2 separate regions of the Homo sapiens genome follow, and region 2 is linked to region 1. The links come from fine-mapping of genetic effects on gene expression. Tissue or cell type: whole blood. Region 1 holds a variant in brackets; the other region holds the start of a gene. All regions are shown on one strand. Distances are from middle to middle.

The links. PIP is the estimated chance that this variant, and not a neighbour inherited with it, causes the effect.
Region 2: HOTAIRM1 starts here. The variant in region 1 is fine-mapped to the expression of HOTAIRM1 in whole blood (INTERVAL, PIP above 0.99).

Annotation. Positions count from the first base shown.
Region 1 is chr7:26,906,236-26,917,237 of GRCh38, reverse strand. No RefSeq gene overlaps it. Among named protein-coding and RNA genes, the nearest start is that of SKAP2, 47 kb to the right of the region's middle. The variant A/G (reference allele first, on the strand shown) is at 4,718.
Region 2 is chr7:27,093,959-27,098,958 of GRCh38, reverse strand. It overlaps HOTAIRM1 (HOXA transcript antisense RNA, myeloid-specific 1), which reads right to left and starts at 2,865. Exons shown (of 2, transcript NR_038367.1): 1 at 2,571-2,865. HOXA1 (homeobox A1) reads left to right here and starts at 2,959. Exons shown (of 2, transcript NM_005522.5): 1 at 2,959-3,698; 2 at 4,164-5,000. The coding sequence starts at 3,047. The coding sequence ends at 4,519. RefSeq lists enhancers at 1,997-2,569, 2,695-2,989, 3,871-4,371, 4,372-4,872 and a silencer at 2,473-2,642.

The sequences.
Region 1 (11,002 bases):
TAGATTTAAAATGTGCTTTAATGTATTATGACTTAGCATACGTAGCTTTCCCTCCAACATCTGTATCCTGATTTGTAGTCTAATAAACCTTCCTGCTGCAGATGGCACGTTCATAGTTGTTCTGAGGTGTAATACATCAACATAGCATTTCTAAACAGAGAGCAATAATGAATTCAATTAGGGGAGGAAATAAAACATCGAGCCTTTTCTTATAATAAATCTTTTACTAAGCTTCCCACATCACATGTTTGCTGAGGAAATAATACATGTCATTCAGATTAAGGGTTATTGTAGACTGCTGAGGGAAACATGAAATTCTGGAGGTTTCAGCAGTCCTGTGAAACCCTGAAACATGGAAAGTGTACAAATTAGAAAAGGATGTAATATGTGACTAATGATACCTCTTGGGATACCTTTGGAAACCATATTTACTGTTATGATCACTAGATTCATTTAAGCTACAGGAGTTGAAAAGCAATACCCTAGTAAGTGAAAAACACCTCTGAGTTCATTAGATGTGGTTGTAATTTAAGCTCTAAAGGCCTTTTTCCTTGCTGTCATTCTTTATATTTCTGGAAATGTGGTACTTGAACTCCTAATAAAAGTAGTCTACATCATGTTCATATAATCTACAGTTCCTGGAAAGCACATTTACACCTCCACATCTGTAGCTAAAGCTGGGACAGAACAGAAACTTAATTCACCCCAGATGTCACCCACTAGAAGTTCTGGAGTAGGGCTGCTGTTCTTAGAATTTTCTATCCACTGATTATGTCTCAAGCAATGGTTTAAATATTCAACCCAGAGTCTCCAAGCCCAAATGTTGTAAACTGTTTCCATATACTATGCCAAGTGCAAAATTAATTGAATTCCACAAAGTTAATCCCCAATCCTGTTCCTTCATTTGTGGAAGGAAATAATGGCTATTTTGACATTATTTAGACAGATAATTCCAAGTCCTTTTGTCATAAGCATCTGAAAAAGAAATTTTGTTCTTCTGGCTTGGTAAGGTATCAGTCCATACTGCTTATAAAAAGATTACATGACAATTTCTTTGGAAAAAAAAAAGGTATATGTATATCATTTGGGCTGCTGATCACCAGCATAGCATGTGATGAATCAACATAATCAGACAGTCAATTTCTGTCTAATGATATTCTTAATCTGCAATAATATTCTTCGTTCTTTAGCTTTGAATTCTTCTACTCCTCAGTTGGTATGGAATCAGTGTTCCCATCCCCAGGTCATATACTTGATTGGAGGGGCTTTAACGGACAAAATAAGATCAGTGCTTTAACCATAGGCTTCTCCACAGTGAGCAGAAATCGAGGCGGGTACACCTTCATTCACACTCTAACCTATTTATAGTTTTTAGTTTTGCCTCTTAAATTCATGTATTTCTTGGCGTCTTGCTTAGAGTCACCTTTTTGACACATGAGTCCTGCCAGGTATGTGGGTTAGTGAGTCTGTACAATTTCTCAGGAGGCCTTGGTGATGCTGCAGCTTCTTAGTTGTAGTTCCAGGAAGGCTGCTGCAAGCACATTGCGCCTTATGAATACTGGAGCTTTCTCTAGAGAGAAACCATTTGTTGCTATGTCAGGTCAGATACAGAAGCCAGATTATCTAGGCTCAGTTGGTATAACTACTCATAAGAATTACTACTTATTAAGAATATCCTCAAGATTTATTAAGGGAACAATGTAAAAATGGCCATGTGAAAATAGTTTTGCGTTTTTGCAAAATTCCTGTTAAAGGCATTGCGCATCGTGTATTTAATAATAAATCTGAGGCCAGGCGCAGTGGCTCACACCTGTAATCCCAGCACTTTGGGAGGCCGAGGCAGGTAGATCACAAGGTCAGGAGTTCAAGACCAGCCTGGCCAAGATGGTGAAACCCCCATCTCTACTAAAAATACAAAAATTAGCCAGGTGTGGTGGCGGGCGCCTGTAATCCCAGTTACTCCAGAGGCTGAGGCAGGAGAATCGCTTGAACCCAAGTGGCAGAGGTTGCAGTGAGCAGAGATCGCGCCACTGCACTCCAGCCTGGGTGACAGAGCAAGACTCTGTCTCAAAAAAAATAAAAAATAAAATAAATCCGAGACTCATCCGCCCGACAAATTCCTCTCAAAATATGTCTCCTGAAAACCTGATGTGTATTTCTCTGTTAAACATTGAGATCTGTGAAACCCTTTGAATTCTCCCTTCTGTATTGACTAAAAGTTAGAGCTAAACTTCATGCTTAATGGTACTAATAATTTTATTCTAGTTTCCTGATATACATTTTCTTTCTCCTTCCTCTGTGGTGGTCTGTGGAATGGTGTTGGTGGTCTCTGAATGCCTGAGTTAGTATACAAAAGTGTGTGTTATGTGTTTTGTTTGTTTGTATATACTTATTTGCATTTTCTGGGGAAAGAGCACAAAGTTTTCATCAGATTCTCAAAGGGATGCATTATCTCCCCAAATTTAAGGACTATAATACTATCTGGTGTTTTATATTTCTGATCTCACCTTTAACTGTTCTGTCTTTATAACAATTATGTTTGCATTATAAACAACCTAAATCCTTTTTCTTTTTTTTTCTTTTTTTTCTTTTTTTGAGACAGAGTCTTGCTCTGTCGCCCAGGCTGGAGTGCAGTGGCATGATCTCAGCTTACTGCAAGCTTGGCCTCCCAGGTTCATGCCATTCTCCTGCCTCAGCCTCCCTAGTAGCTGGGACTACAGGCACCCGCCACCACTCCTGGCTAATTTTTTGTATTTTTAGTAGAGACAGGCTTTCACTGTGTTAGCCAGGATGGTGTCGATCTCCTGACCTTGTGCTCCACCTGCCTTGGCCTCCCAAAGTGCTGGGATTACAGGCGTGAGCCACCGTGCCCGGCCCCTAAATCCTTTTTCATGGGGAGAGAGGGAAGGAAAAGCTAGATGGCAGTAAAAATTAAACAAATACAAATACAACAGCATATTTTATTGTCAAGTACTCAGTCTGTTAGTAGGTATGATTTTGGGGGGCTTTCTCCCCACTAGAAATAATGGACTACATCGGTATGGTATACATCTATATGAAAATGTAATCTGATGTCTTTTAATTTTTTTTCCTGGCTTAAGAAAAAAAAAATTATCTAGACAGGTCTATCTAGAAGGTCTCCTATATGAAGCATCTCCTAAATACTATAGGGAGATTATGTACATAGAAAATTCCTTTACCATGTGACATTGATATACATATTGACTTGGGAAGGAAAAACTCCACTGTGTTGTACTTTTTTCTTTTTTTTTTTTTGAGGCTGAGTCTCACTGTGTTGCCCAGGCTGGACTGCGGTAGCGCCATCTCCGCTTACTGCAACCTCCGCCTCCCGAGTTCAAGTGATTCCCCCACTTCAGTCTCTCAAGTAGCTGGGGTTACAGGTGCCCACCACCACCCTTGGTGATTTTTTGAATTTTTAGTAGAGTCTGGGTTTCAGCATGTTGACCAGGCTGATCTCGAACTCTTGACTTCAGGTGATCTGCCTGCCTCAGCCTCCCAAAGTGCTGGTATTACAGGTGTGAGCCACCGTGCCTGGCCTGTGTTGTACATATTAATGTGAGATTTTAAAGACAACTCCACAGGACTTGCCTTGCTAATTTGGAATCTTGTTCAGAGAAAAAGACTTGATGAGAAAGGATCTCAGGAGATCAAATAGTAACACCATACCATTGGAGGAGCAGATATATTGCCCCTTAGAATAAAATATCTTCTATCTTGATTTTTCAAAATAATTTTTTATGAACATATTGTGAATTACACAGGACACCAACTCTGCTGCTTTGGGAGCAAAAAGACAGAGCTGACAGATGTAGATATTTGCCAGGAACAACCATGTGAATTTATAAATATTTTACAAGTGCAGCTTTCAGAAGAGTGACTTTTACTGCCGTATTAATGCAACTTGCAAATTTATAGTCTGGGCACTTGTGGGTTATGAATGTCCAGTATTCAAGGCTAGTGCCAAGAACATAGTTTATGTTTTGAAATTCTTTTTTTCTCTGATTACAGACTTCTTGGCTGTTAAGATCTACATTATAATTCAGCTGCACATGAGGTGCAAGGCTACATAATACATCAGTTTCCACTCCCAATGGCTAGACTCATAAATATACTCATTACAACACACTTCATGTGACAGAATGACATACAAAGCATAAAAATATCTCTATAGAGTAGAGAACTAGTGGTAGTAGAAGCAACAGTAGCATGATTCCATGCCTCTGGCCAGACCCATAATATGTGACCTAATATTATAATTATTTGTCATAATATAAAGAAAATTTGAATCATACGTTTTTAGAAATAATATCTTAGTATATATTAGATCAACACACTCATGAGTGTTGTCATATGTATTGAAGGCTACACTACTGAAAAGAATTTAGTTACTCTAATCTTTTGGCAGGGAGATTATGGAGGAAGAAGCACCACTGCAACTCTTTCCTTGTAAGTTTCTAAGTTGCTTTTCCACTGATTGTGCCCAAAGTAAAAGAGTCTTTCTAGCATTCCAGGCTCTGGAGAAAGAGAGCAGATTTATCTGGGCTTGAGCAAAAAACAGCCTGGGGTGAAATCTTAAAGGTGACCAGACTTTGGTCACATGTCAGAGGGTTCTCCTTTTTCAAGATGTTATTATGACCTAGGCAGAATTGTTGCTGTTGAAGAAAGTTAGCACTGTTGCCCAACCTTTCTGCCTTCC[A/G]TTAAGTAGCTCTGTTACCTTGTACACATCACTTCTCAGGTTCATAGTTCCTCTTCACTGAAATGTTGAAGTTGTGCCATATGATTGCAAAATTCTTTCCAGCTGTAATTTTTTTTTCTAATGCATGTGTGCCAACATATGCAGATATTGATTAACAATACATTATAATCTTCAATATTAGTTATTTTATCAGTGTGCACATTTTCATTCTCTGAAACCCATCAGTGGCAAAATGCTTCACTGTTTTACTCCCCAATGTCCACCATTTCTTGCTCTGTATTAAGATTGTGTATTATTCCTAATAATCATTGGGACCAGATGTGGTGGCTCATGCCTGTAATCTCCGTAATTTGGGAGGTCAAGGCAGGAGGATTCCTTGAGCCCAGGAGTTTGAGGCCAGCCTAGGCAACATGGCAAAACTCCATCTCTACAAAAAATACAAAAATTAGCCAGGCATGGTAATGCATGCCTGTTATCCCAGCTGAGGTGGGAGGATTGCTTGAGCCCAGGAGGTCAAGGCTGCAGTGAGCTGTGATCGAGCCATTGCACTCCAGCATGGGTGACAGAACAAGACCCTGTCTAAAAAAAAAAAAAAAGAGGTTATCAGGAGTGTAAACTTAAATAATGGGGAATCTTGTGTTCTTACAAAAAAATTTGTGATTAGTTCAGTGAGTAAAGCTTTTCCAAATTACCAAAGCTAAATAAATAAATAATCCTTGTTTATTCCAAGGCTTAATCCTACTGAGGCCCCCAACCTGATTCCTGATTAATCACGCAGCAGACAGCAGCTTCTTCTTCTTCTTCTTTTTTTTTTTTTTTGGAGACGGAGTCTTGCTGTCTTGCTGTGTCACCCAGGCTGGAGTGCAGTGGCGCGATCTCTGCTCACTGCAACCTCCGCCTCCCGGGTTCAAGTGATTCTTCTGCTTCAGCCTCCCGAGTAGCTGGGAATACAGGCATGCTCCACCATGCCCGGCTAATTTTTGTACTTTCAGTAGAGATGGGGTTTCACCATGTTGGCCAAGCTGGTCTCCAACTCCTGACCTCATGATCCACCCACCTCTGCCTCCCCAAGTGCTGGGATTACAGGCATGAACCACCATGCCTGGCCAGCAAACTGCTTCTTATTAGCTGACCTTATACATTTCAATGAAACAGACTGTGAAAAATGACACATACACACAGATCCCAGGCAGTAATTATATTAAAAAATACTTTGTTAATTGTTTTACAGGCACCATTAGCCTTAAGAATAAAATTCCGTCAACAGCAAATCCTTTTTCTTTCATTTGCTTCTAATCTAAGGGATAAACATAGTCAAATGCTGTTATTGTTACCCAGGAAAATTTCAGCTTTAAAACTGATTGAATCCATTTTTTTTTATCTTATTATCTTAGAACATAGCAATTTTAAAGAACACAGGTAGAATGATAGCAGTCCATGATCCAGACAGTGTCATATATCCCTTGTTTGTTTTCTTTCTTTTCTCTTTATCTTTATCCTGAAATTTCCTTTCTGTTCTACTGTGAAAGTAAAAATCTGAAAGGAAAATAATTACCTATTGATACTCTTCTAACACAGCCACATGTTCACGTGATAAATGAAACATTACCACACAAAACTGCTAAAATGACATTCTTATTGGAGGTCCAATTTACTTAATTTTATGTCTTCCAACTGTTAAGACAAGGGTCACTCATTCTGTAAAATTAATGGCTGAAATAAATTTAGAATTTAAAAAGCATAAGGAAAATATTTCTTTGCCCAATGTATGGCCAACCTGTGGAATTTATTAGCCTGGGAGGTCATAGATTCAGTCAAGAGATGAATTAGAAAAGCTAGATAATTGTATGACCAGTCATAATACTGTTAGTTATGAATACTAACAAAAGGTACTAATAGAATCTCATGCTTCAGGGTACAAGCTGATCTCCGCTCACTAGGAGCTTTGAAGGACTTCTCTTATTTCCTTATGATGCTCCTCTGAGCAAGTGGCTGGATTCACATTGAGGTTTTACCTCTTTTTGAAAGTAACTACTATTGGGAACAGGATACCACATTTAGGTCACATTGGGGTTTTGTTGTTGTTGTTTGTGCAACAGCATCTTGCTCTGTCACCCAGGCTGGAATGCGGTGGGGCGATCATGACTCACTGCAGCCTTGACCTCCTAGGCTGAAGTGATCTTCCTGCTTCAGCCTCCTGAAGTGCTGGGATTACAGGCATGAGCCACTATGCCTGGCCTGTGTTTTTTGTTTTTTGGCAATGAAAACCACAAATGTCTGCTAATACGATACAAAAAGAGCAATGAAATGATACGTGAGTTTAAACTTTTTAAAGAGTTTATTCATTAATTCAATAAATATTTATTGAGGGCCTATCATGAACCTATCACTGTCCTAGGTGTTTGGAATACAACAAGGAGAAAAACAGAGAAAAATCCTTGCTTTCATGAAAATCCCCCCCATTATTTTGTTCCAAGGTATCAGTATTGAAGTTTATGATCTTGTGATCTGCAGTTAGTTTAGAAGTGGATAAGGTGCAGCATTTCAGGTGCAGCTCCTCTTGAAGCTATCTGCCCCCATACCCTACTTAAAATAGAGCGACAAATACTCTCATTTAAAGAAGGGAAGAAATGAGAGATATGTAACAGTTAGTAGTCCATAAAAATTCTGAAGTCTAGCTTGTCAGATGTTGCTGGGGTCCCTCTATTCAAGAAGCAGAGAACGTTTTTTGATTAGGCTTCAGTTCTTCCAAGGCTCAATTCTATAACTTACTGTCCTCTGATGTTCTTCTCAGAGGAAGGAGGTTTGTTGTACTATGGGCTCTTTTCTCTACCCTCTGAGACACTCTTAGTTTTCAATAAAAAATAGCTCATATTTGCAGGTGGGTGGCTTTCTTAGCCTGCTCTCTGTATGTGAAAATTTGGAGGCCCAGAGAAATCTTCTCATTTTGAACTTTTTTTTTTGTCCAAGCTTGCAGGGATTTTTATCAGTCTAACTCTTTTAAAAACTTTTTGGAACTTTGTGGACCTCCTATGAATATGGTTTGGGCCTATTCCATGCCCTAAAGACCACATCACTAATTATTTTTGAGAAAGTCACTCTCATCTTTGGGCCGTATACCAGGCTGCTGTGATACATCCTTAAGATTGTAGGCACCACCGACTGGGCGTGGTGGCTCACGCCTGTAATCCCAGCACTCTGGGAGGCTGAAGTGGGCAGATCACGAAATCAAGAGATCGAGACCATTCTGGCCAACATGGTGAAACCCCATCTCTACTAAAAATACAAAAATTAGCTGGGCGTGGTGGCCTCCCAAGTAGTCCCAGCTACTTGGGAAGCTGAGGCAGGAGAATCGCTTGATCCCGAGAGGTGGAGGTTGCAATGAGCCGAGATCGCACCACTGCACTCCAGCCTGGCTACAGAGCAAGACCCCATCTCAAAAAAAAAAAAAAAAAGATTCTAGGCACCACCTTACACCATTCAGTTGTTTAACAAGGGGCCTTTCAGCCACACCCTTGATCTGGATTTTCACTGTGAAGTCATTTCCTTTCTTTTTTTTTTTTTTTTTTTTTTTTTTGAGACAGGGTCTTGCTCTGTTGCCAAGACAGGAGTGCAGTGCCATGATCATAGCTCACTGTAACCTCAAATTCCTGGCCTCAAATGATCATCTCACCTTGGCTTCCCAAAGTGCTGGGATTACAGGCATGAGCCACTACACCCAGCCAGTCATTTATTACTTTGAGAATCTTTTAATGGCTAGAGAGACCAGAAATATGAAGGGTCTTTCCCCCAGCTCTCAAGTCCTGGCTCCTTTATATTGCTTATGAACTCTGCAGGAAAACTGCACAGTTCTTTCTTTAGCTCTCTCTTGTTTTTGTATGTTATCTTATACAATTAAAAAACATCTATTCCTTCAATATTTTGCCTGGGAATCTCCTTAGCTGATTCTCTAATCCACTGGGTAAATTCCCTTCCCCTTCCCCTTCCCCTTCCCCTTCCCCTTCCCCTCCCCTCCCCTTCCCCTCCGTTCCCCTCCCTTCCCCTCCCCTTTCTTTTCTTTCTTTCTTTCTTTCTTTCTTTCTTTCTTTCTTTCTTTCTTTCTTTCTTTCTTTCTTTCTTTCTTTCTTTTTCTTTCTTTCTTTCTCTTTCTTCTTTCTTTCTCTCTTTCTCTCTTTTTATTTTTTTTTCCTTTAGAGTCTCATTCTGTTGCCCAGGCTGGGGTGCAGTGGCACGATCTCGGCTCACTGCAAACTCCACCTCTCGGGTTCAAGCGATTCTCCTGCCTCAGCCTCCTGAGGAGCTGGGATTACAGGCACCCGCCATCACGCCTGGCTAATTTTTGTATTTTTTCAGTAGAGATGGGGTTTCACCATGTTGGCTAGGTTGGTCTCCAACTCCTGACCTCAGCTGATCTGCCTGCCTCGGCCTCCCAAAGTGCTGGGATGACAGGTGTGAACCACCATACCTGGCCCATCGGGTAAATTTTCTATCTTCCATATTATCATAGGCAACAGTTTTGCTATTGTTGCACTACTATATAATACAGATTGCCATTTTTCCTGAGTGCTATAGCAGTTTCTTACCACTTTTCTTGCTCCTAACAATTTATTCTCTATTTTCTCAATTTTGGCTAACAGTTTTCCTGTCACTTGTCCAGCCTCTATCCATCACCTTGTCCCAAAGCTAATGCTACATATTTCAGGTTGCTGTAACAGCAGCACTTCAGTCCTAGTACCATTTTCTTTATCAGTTAGCTTTTGCACCATAATAAACTATCCAAAGCTTTGTGAATTATAATAATATCTATTATTTCTCACAGTTTTGTGGGTTGACTGTGTATTTCTTCCATCAAAAAAGATAGCTAGATTGTCTAGGATGGTTCCACACATGTCTGGTGATTGTTCTATGTCTGGTGAAGTGATAGCCATGTATCTATCATCATTAGTAGGGCTAGTTCAGGCTCATCCATATGGTACAAACTCATAGTGCACAAAGTCATCGTGGTACAAAGTCACATATGCAAATTTGTGGGCCACCTTTCACAGTCTACCACAATTCTTTTCTTTTCACTTCAGTTTTGCTTATCTTCTTTATTCTAGTACTGAGGGGAATTCACTTTATTAACAGCTTGATTGGTTACCTTACCAATCATTGACTTTCTTATTATGCTACCTAATCAAGACTGTGTGAAGATTTACTAATACTGTGCATTTGGCATAATAGTTGTTCATGACTTCATCAAACTATGTTTCTTTGGATCTTTATGGTGAGTTTAACTCTTCCTTTTATTTGAGAATTCCATACTCAAAATCATTGAGTATAGAATTATTAGTCTTGGAATTAAGTCTTAGTCTTAGTTCTTAGCCTTCATTATTTGAGTTCTAGTTGAGTTAAAACTGTTATACTTTGAGGGGCATGGTTTACCACTCACAAGCTTTTATACTCCTTTCTTTATTATTACAGAACTGATATTTTCCATAAGATTGATCTTGCCATTAAGATGAATACTGAATACAACTATGAACTTGAAGAATTGACTATAGTAGAGTGAATGAAATTTCAAATTATATATATATATAATGTGTGTGTGTACATATATATATGTATATGTACACACACACACACACACACACACATATATACATATATATGTTCTGTTTTCTCTGCACTGGGAGTAGCAGTTCCAGAGGAGAAGGGAGTTTGAGAGAGATCAATTTTGGGAGTGGGAAATGGAATTATATTTTGAGGAAAGTATCTCCTTAAGGCTTTTGCATTCTTAAATCTGTCAGAGGAGCCATTTATTCTCTCATAAATCTGTAATGATACACAGTTGCACATAATGGTTTGTAATTTCCTTTGGTCAGCAAAGAGAAAAATGAAAGAAGTAAACAAGTACATGAACCCAGTAATGTCCACCCAATATTTCATAATAGCCCCCGAGATGGTAAACCTAAATGATCTTGCTTGCTGAAAATCATGGCAATATTTGAGAGGATGAGTTTCCAGTCATAAATGGAACACAAATAATGAGATGATTTCTTCTGCCCTGAATAACCTGAAATATTAGCTACAATTTCCTTCAACTTGTGAGCCTTCTGCATTCATACAGCCCTGTAATAGAGTACTCAGTGTCAATGCCCATTTCCTATACTGATCATATAAAAAAACTTAACATGTTTATAAACTGAAAGCTTCAACCAAAAGTTTGACATTGTTTCACTGAACTCTCAAATTCATATCTTATCATTTCAAGATAACTTTTCTATGTTCCTCCCTCAAAAATGA
Region 2 (5,000 bases), 180 kb before region 1:
TAGTCATAATTCATTTTTATTGCTCTTTTAAAACAACAGCTTGGCTGAGCCGCGGATGCCATGAACAGTTCAGGGCCTCGGCGTCATTTTATCTCCTCCTTATTCCTTTCCTTTCTAGCATAAGAGCCCTGAAAGAGGCGTTTTGAGCCAAGAGAACCGCTTGTAGGCGATCATTTTAAGCGTAACCAAGCTCGCCTTTCACCCAGTCTCCCAAGGCGTTGAAAGAGACCAGCTCCAGTCTTGGGGCGCTGACCTACTTGCCTAGAGGGCCAAGGATCTCCTACTCGGTGGAACGGCCCCCAGAATTTCTTGGGGGAGGGGTGTGGGGAAAGAACTGAGCTACAGAAGCCTAAGGGCTAGAGGCCAGGGGAGGCTGCCTTTGTGTGCTGTTCCCGGGGAGCGGCGCTCTGGGCTGCCAGGCGAGGCATAGCCAGCCCGGCTGCGAGCACCCGGCCTGCGGGGAGCCGGGAACAGTAAGCGGAGAAGGGCGGCCGCCGGGCCTGTGTGTCTGCGGGCCTGTGTGCGAGTGCAAGCTCGTGATCCCAAGAAAAACACTCCACCCAGGATGCCCCAGAAAAGAGGCCAGGAGAGAAGAAGAGAGGCTGAGGGAGAGCAGGGCCGAGGCAGCGAACTAGCAGAGAGAGTGGCTCCTGCCGGGGTCGGCTTTGTGGCAGGCGCCCTGCAGCCGAGGGGGTCCTGCAAACCCAGGCTGAGGAGGGCAACCAAGGTACAGGAATGAGGCAGCGGGGGAAAATGTACCGACTTGCTCAGGCTTGGAGGGAGGATTGCTCGCATAGCCAGCACCGACCTACTCACATCCTGCCCCCTCTCCCACAGGAGCTCCTTCTCTCCCCGCCGCTGGAAGCTGGTGCTCCCAAGGAAGCCGCCTCCAGGAGGACTGCCTTGCCTTTCCCCTTCTCCAGTCGGAGGATTCCCAGGAGCCGAAACTGGGGCAGGGGTGGCTGCCCAACCCCAGAAAGTGGGCCTTTCCTGCCCGTGCTCCCTCTTAACCATGCTTGGGATGGATCAAAGTCACAAATACTATTCTGAAAGGAAATGTTTGGGGAGAATGTTTCATTGTTACTGAGGGAGTCCAGAGTCAGCATGGGTTTTTTCTCTTGAGAGGACAGGTTTGGGGGAACTTCGGTACGTGGAGAACAGAATACAGAAGACTGAAAGGGTGACTAACATATTTGAAATGTACCTTCCTTGAAAAAAAAAAAACCTTCCTTGTTCTAACGGGAGGAAAGGCTGAAGAGGAGTGGAAACCCCAAACCCACATACATTCATTCACTATAAATTTCATCTGATTCCAACATTGTACACATGGTTGGAGTAAAATTTATACAGCATTGCTTATAATTTATACAGCAAAGCTTCCTGGACAAGCTCTCGATTTCTCCTACCCAAGACTGCATCAATTCTTGGTCTCCGTTTGGCTTTTTCTCTCTACAAGCCCAGGGTTGACGTGAAACCTAATAGTAAACAACAATTTAACGACCTCAGCAGCCTCAGGGAAGTAGGGTGATGAGGAACAGGACCCCTGGCCTGGGATGAGGCTCAGATTTGCATGTGTCTCTCTAGGGAAGGACTTGAAGGTTCTCATAAGCAACTACACAGCCAGTTGGAAAGGGGAGGAGGTGTCGTTGGGGTAAAGTGTCCCGTCCACCATCAGCCATTTGTCCACCGCCCCTCCCACCTGCCAGCCCCCACACCCACTCTAGACGTGCAGCAGAATGAGGAAGGTTATAAAAGGAAGCTCTCTCTCTCTTCTAACATTCCCCTCCAGAAAAAGAGGAACGCAACGAAGGGAGTTCAGCTACTATGTTGGAGCTGTGGACCGGCCCTGTGAGGCCCACGCGGGAGCGCGGAGGCTCCTGGGTCTCAGGGCGCCGGCAGATGGCCTGCAGCGCACCGCCCGGCCCCCGCGCTGGCCACGTCCGCCAGCGTCATCTCTCTCCCCCGCCTCCTACCCCTAAAAATCCGGCGGTCGAGTAGCTCCGCATCCCGGAGGGCTCCCGGTGCAAAACTGAGTGGGAAAGAGAAAGGGGCGGAGAGCGACGAGAGAGGGAAGGTGGGGAAGAAGAGCCCGGCCGCCCCCGGCCTTTTCCGGCGAGCTCTGAGTTTCCAGGGCTCATCCGCCCCTCCAAGTCGAATTACAGAAACTCCTCATTGCCATGCTAATGACGAGAGGGGCTGTGGGGAGAGGGTTTCGAAGACCCTCCTGGAAGAAGGGAAGTTTCTTTTCTTGCCCTCGTCTCCTTCACGCCCACCCGAGTTCCTCCCAGCCAGCCCTCTGCGCTCTTCCCCCTCCATTCCGAGCTTGAAGAGCCGGTGGCCCAGCCTCGCCCTCCACCACGGTTCTATGCGCTCCTCACAGCCCCACGGTCTCCCAGCCCAGCCTCAGAACAGAGGAGGTGGCCTGGGAACCCGGGGCGCGGTGTCAGCCGGATTCCCCGCCTTCCGGCTGGGCGCGCTGCGGGCTGGGCCGGCGTACTTGCGGCCACCCGGCGAGCTCTGGCCCACTGATTCCCGCCCCGAGAGAGCCGGGAGCCCTCTTCCCTTCTCACCTCTCGCCAGTTCATCTTTCATTGAACGGTGGGGAGGGGGCGGGAGCGGGGGACGCCTCCCAGCCCCCACCTCCCGGAGGCCTGGCGGGGCGGGCAGCGGAGTCGGGCGCGCGCAGAACGCAGCTTTTGCTCTTCTTCGCTCCAGCACTCCAAATCGGCCTTTGCAGTCGCCGCAGCAGCTGCCGCCGCCTAGGCTGCCTGGGGGGGCGACTGCGCGTCACCTAGACGGCGGAGCGCCGGGGATTTAAATGCCACTAAAACGGTGATCCATCACTGCGGAAGCCGGCAAACTTTTGCAGGAGGCTCAGCCATTGGCTGACACCGTCACGTGCCCCTCCTCCAGCGTCCTCCGCCCTCCCGCCCCCCCTCTTGCGCACTGTACATTCATATCATTTTTCTTCTCCGGCCCCATGGAGGAAGTGAGAAAGTTGGCACAGTCACGCCGGGCTTCGCAGGACCAGGTCACTCAGTGACAGATGGACAATGCAAGAATGAACTCCTTCCTGGAATACCCCATACTTAGCAGTGGCGACTCGGGGACCTGCTCAGCCCGAGCCTACCCCTCGGACCATAGGATTACAACTTTCCAGTCGTGCGCGGTCAGCGCCAACAGTTGCGGCGGCGACGACCGCTTCCTAGTGGGCAGGGGGGTGCAGATCGGTTCGCCCCACCACCACCACCACCACCACCATCGCCACCCCCAGCCGGCTACCTACCAGACTTCCGGGAACCTGGGGGTGTCCTACTCCCACTCAAGTTGTGGTCCAAGCTATGGCTCACAGAACTTCAGTGCGCCTTACAGCCCCTACGCGTTAAATCAGGAAGCAGACGTAAGTGGTGGGTACCCCCAGTGCGCTCCCGCTGTTTACTCTGGAAATCTCTCATCTCCCATGGTCCAGCATCACCACCACCACCAGGGTTATGCTGGGGGCGCGGTGGGCTCGCCTCAATACATTCACCACTCATATGGACAGGAGCACCAGAGCCTGGCCCTGGCTACGTATAATAACTCCTTGTCCCCTCTCCACGCCAGCCACCAAGAAGCCTGTCGCTCCCCCGCATCGGAGACATCTTCTCCAGCGCAGACTTTTGACTGGATGAAAGTCAAAAGAAACCCTCCCAAAACAGGTCAGTCCTGCTGGTTGGTGGATGCTCCTTGATTATTCTGGAAGGAGCTGGTATGCTTAATTTCCAAGGAAATTAATAATGATCTTTTTTTTAAAAGGCTTTTGTATCAGACTAGTGTTGTAGTGCATGGAGAGGGTGCCCAGAGGTGTTGGGGCAAAGAAGTCTCAGGGATTGGTGTGTTTTCAAGGATTTTATACATTTGGGAAATAGGAAGTATGTGGGGGTGGTTATTGTGACGGTAGTGTTCTGTTAATATCTTGAGGCTCCATTAATCACCGGTCTGACCATGCTAATGGTTTACATCAGGTTAACACTTTACACCTCATCACTCACCCTCCACAGCCCGATTTGTGCTGAGTTCTTGATCTTTTCTTTACCTGAGTGTTGCCATGAAGCGTGTGGGGAATCTCAAGTCGATTTAAAAATTTTTACATTTCCGTCTCATGGCTTCCCACTTTGCCCCAGGGAAAGTTGGAGAGTACGGCTACCTGGGTCAACCCAACGCGGTGCGCACCAACTTCACTACCAAGCAGCTCACGGAACTGGAGAAGGAGTTCCACTTCAACAAGTACCTGACGCGCGCCCGCAGGGTGGAGATCGCTGCATCCCTGCAGCTCAACGAGACCCAAGTGAAGATCTGGTTCCAGAACCGCCGAATGAAGCAAAAGAAACGTGAGAAGGAGGGTCTCTTGCCCATCTCTCCGGCCACCCCGCCAGGAAACGACGAGAAGGCCGAGGAATCCTCAGAGAAGTCCAGCTCTTCGCCCTGCGTTCCTTCCCCGGGGTCTTCTACCTCAGACACTCTGACTACCTCCCACTGAGGCGGCTCCAGCCCCAGACAACAGCCCAGGCATCTCCTTGGGCTGGGACTTCTTACCCAAAGCACATGCTTAGCTTATCTTTCTTTCCATTTACAGTCTCTTTCTTCCTTTCTAATCCTATCTGGGGAGCTCCTGGCCAGGATAATATATTTGCAGATAATTCTGGACCAGAGACTTGGTGCGGGGTTAACACCTTCATCCAGATTGGGTGCCAGCATACATTTTCTGGTGGGCCTTAACATCCCTCCTGCTTTTAGGAGAATTCACAGAACCTACTGTTCCTTTCAGATGACCTTTTGGAAAATAGTTCCCTTTGCCAACAGAAACATGCCAGAAGGAATCTTCTCATCTTTTATCTAACTATATGTACAGCTCTCCCCTCCCTTGTCCTTGAAAGTAGGATATAGCGAAAGGCGAGTCCAGGAGCTCAGGAAGAAGAGATGCACTATATGTTTACACAATTAATTCATCCCTTAATTTA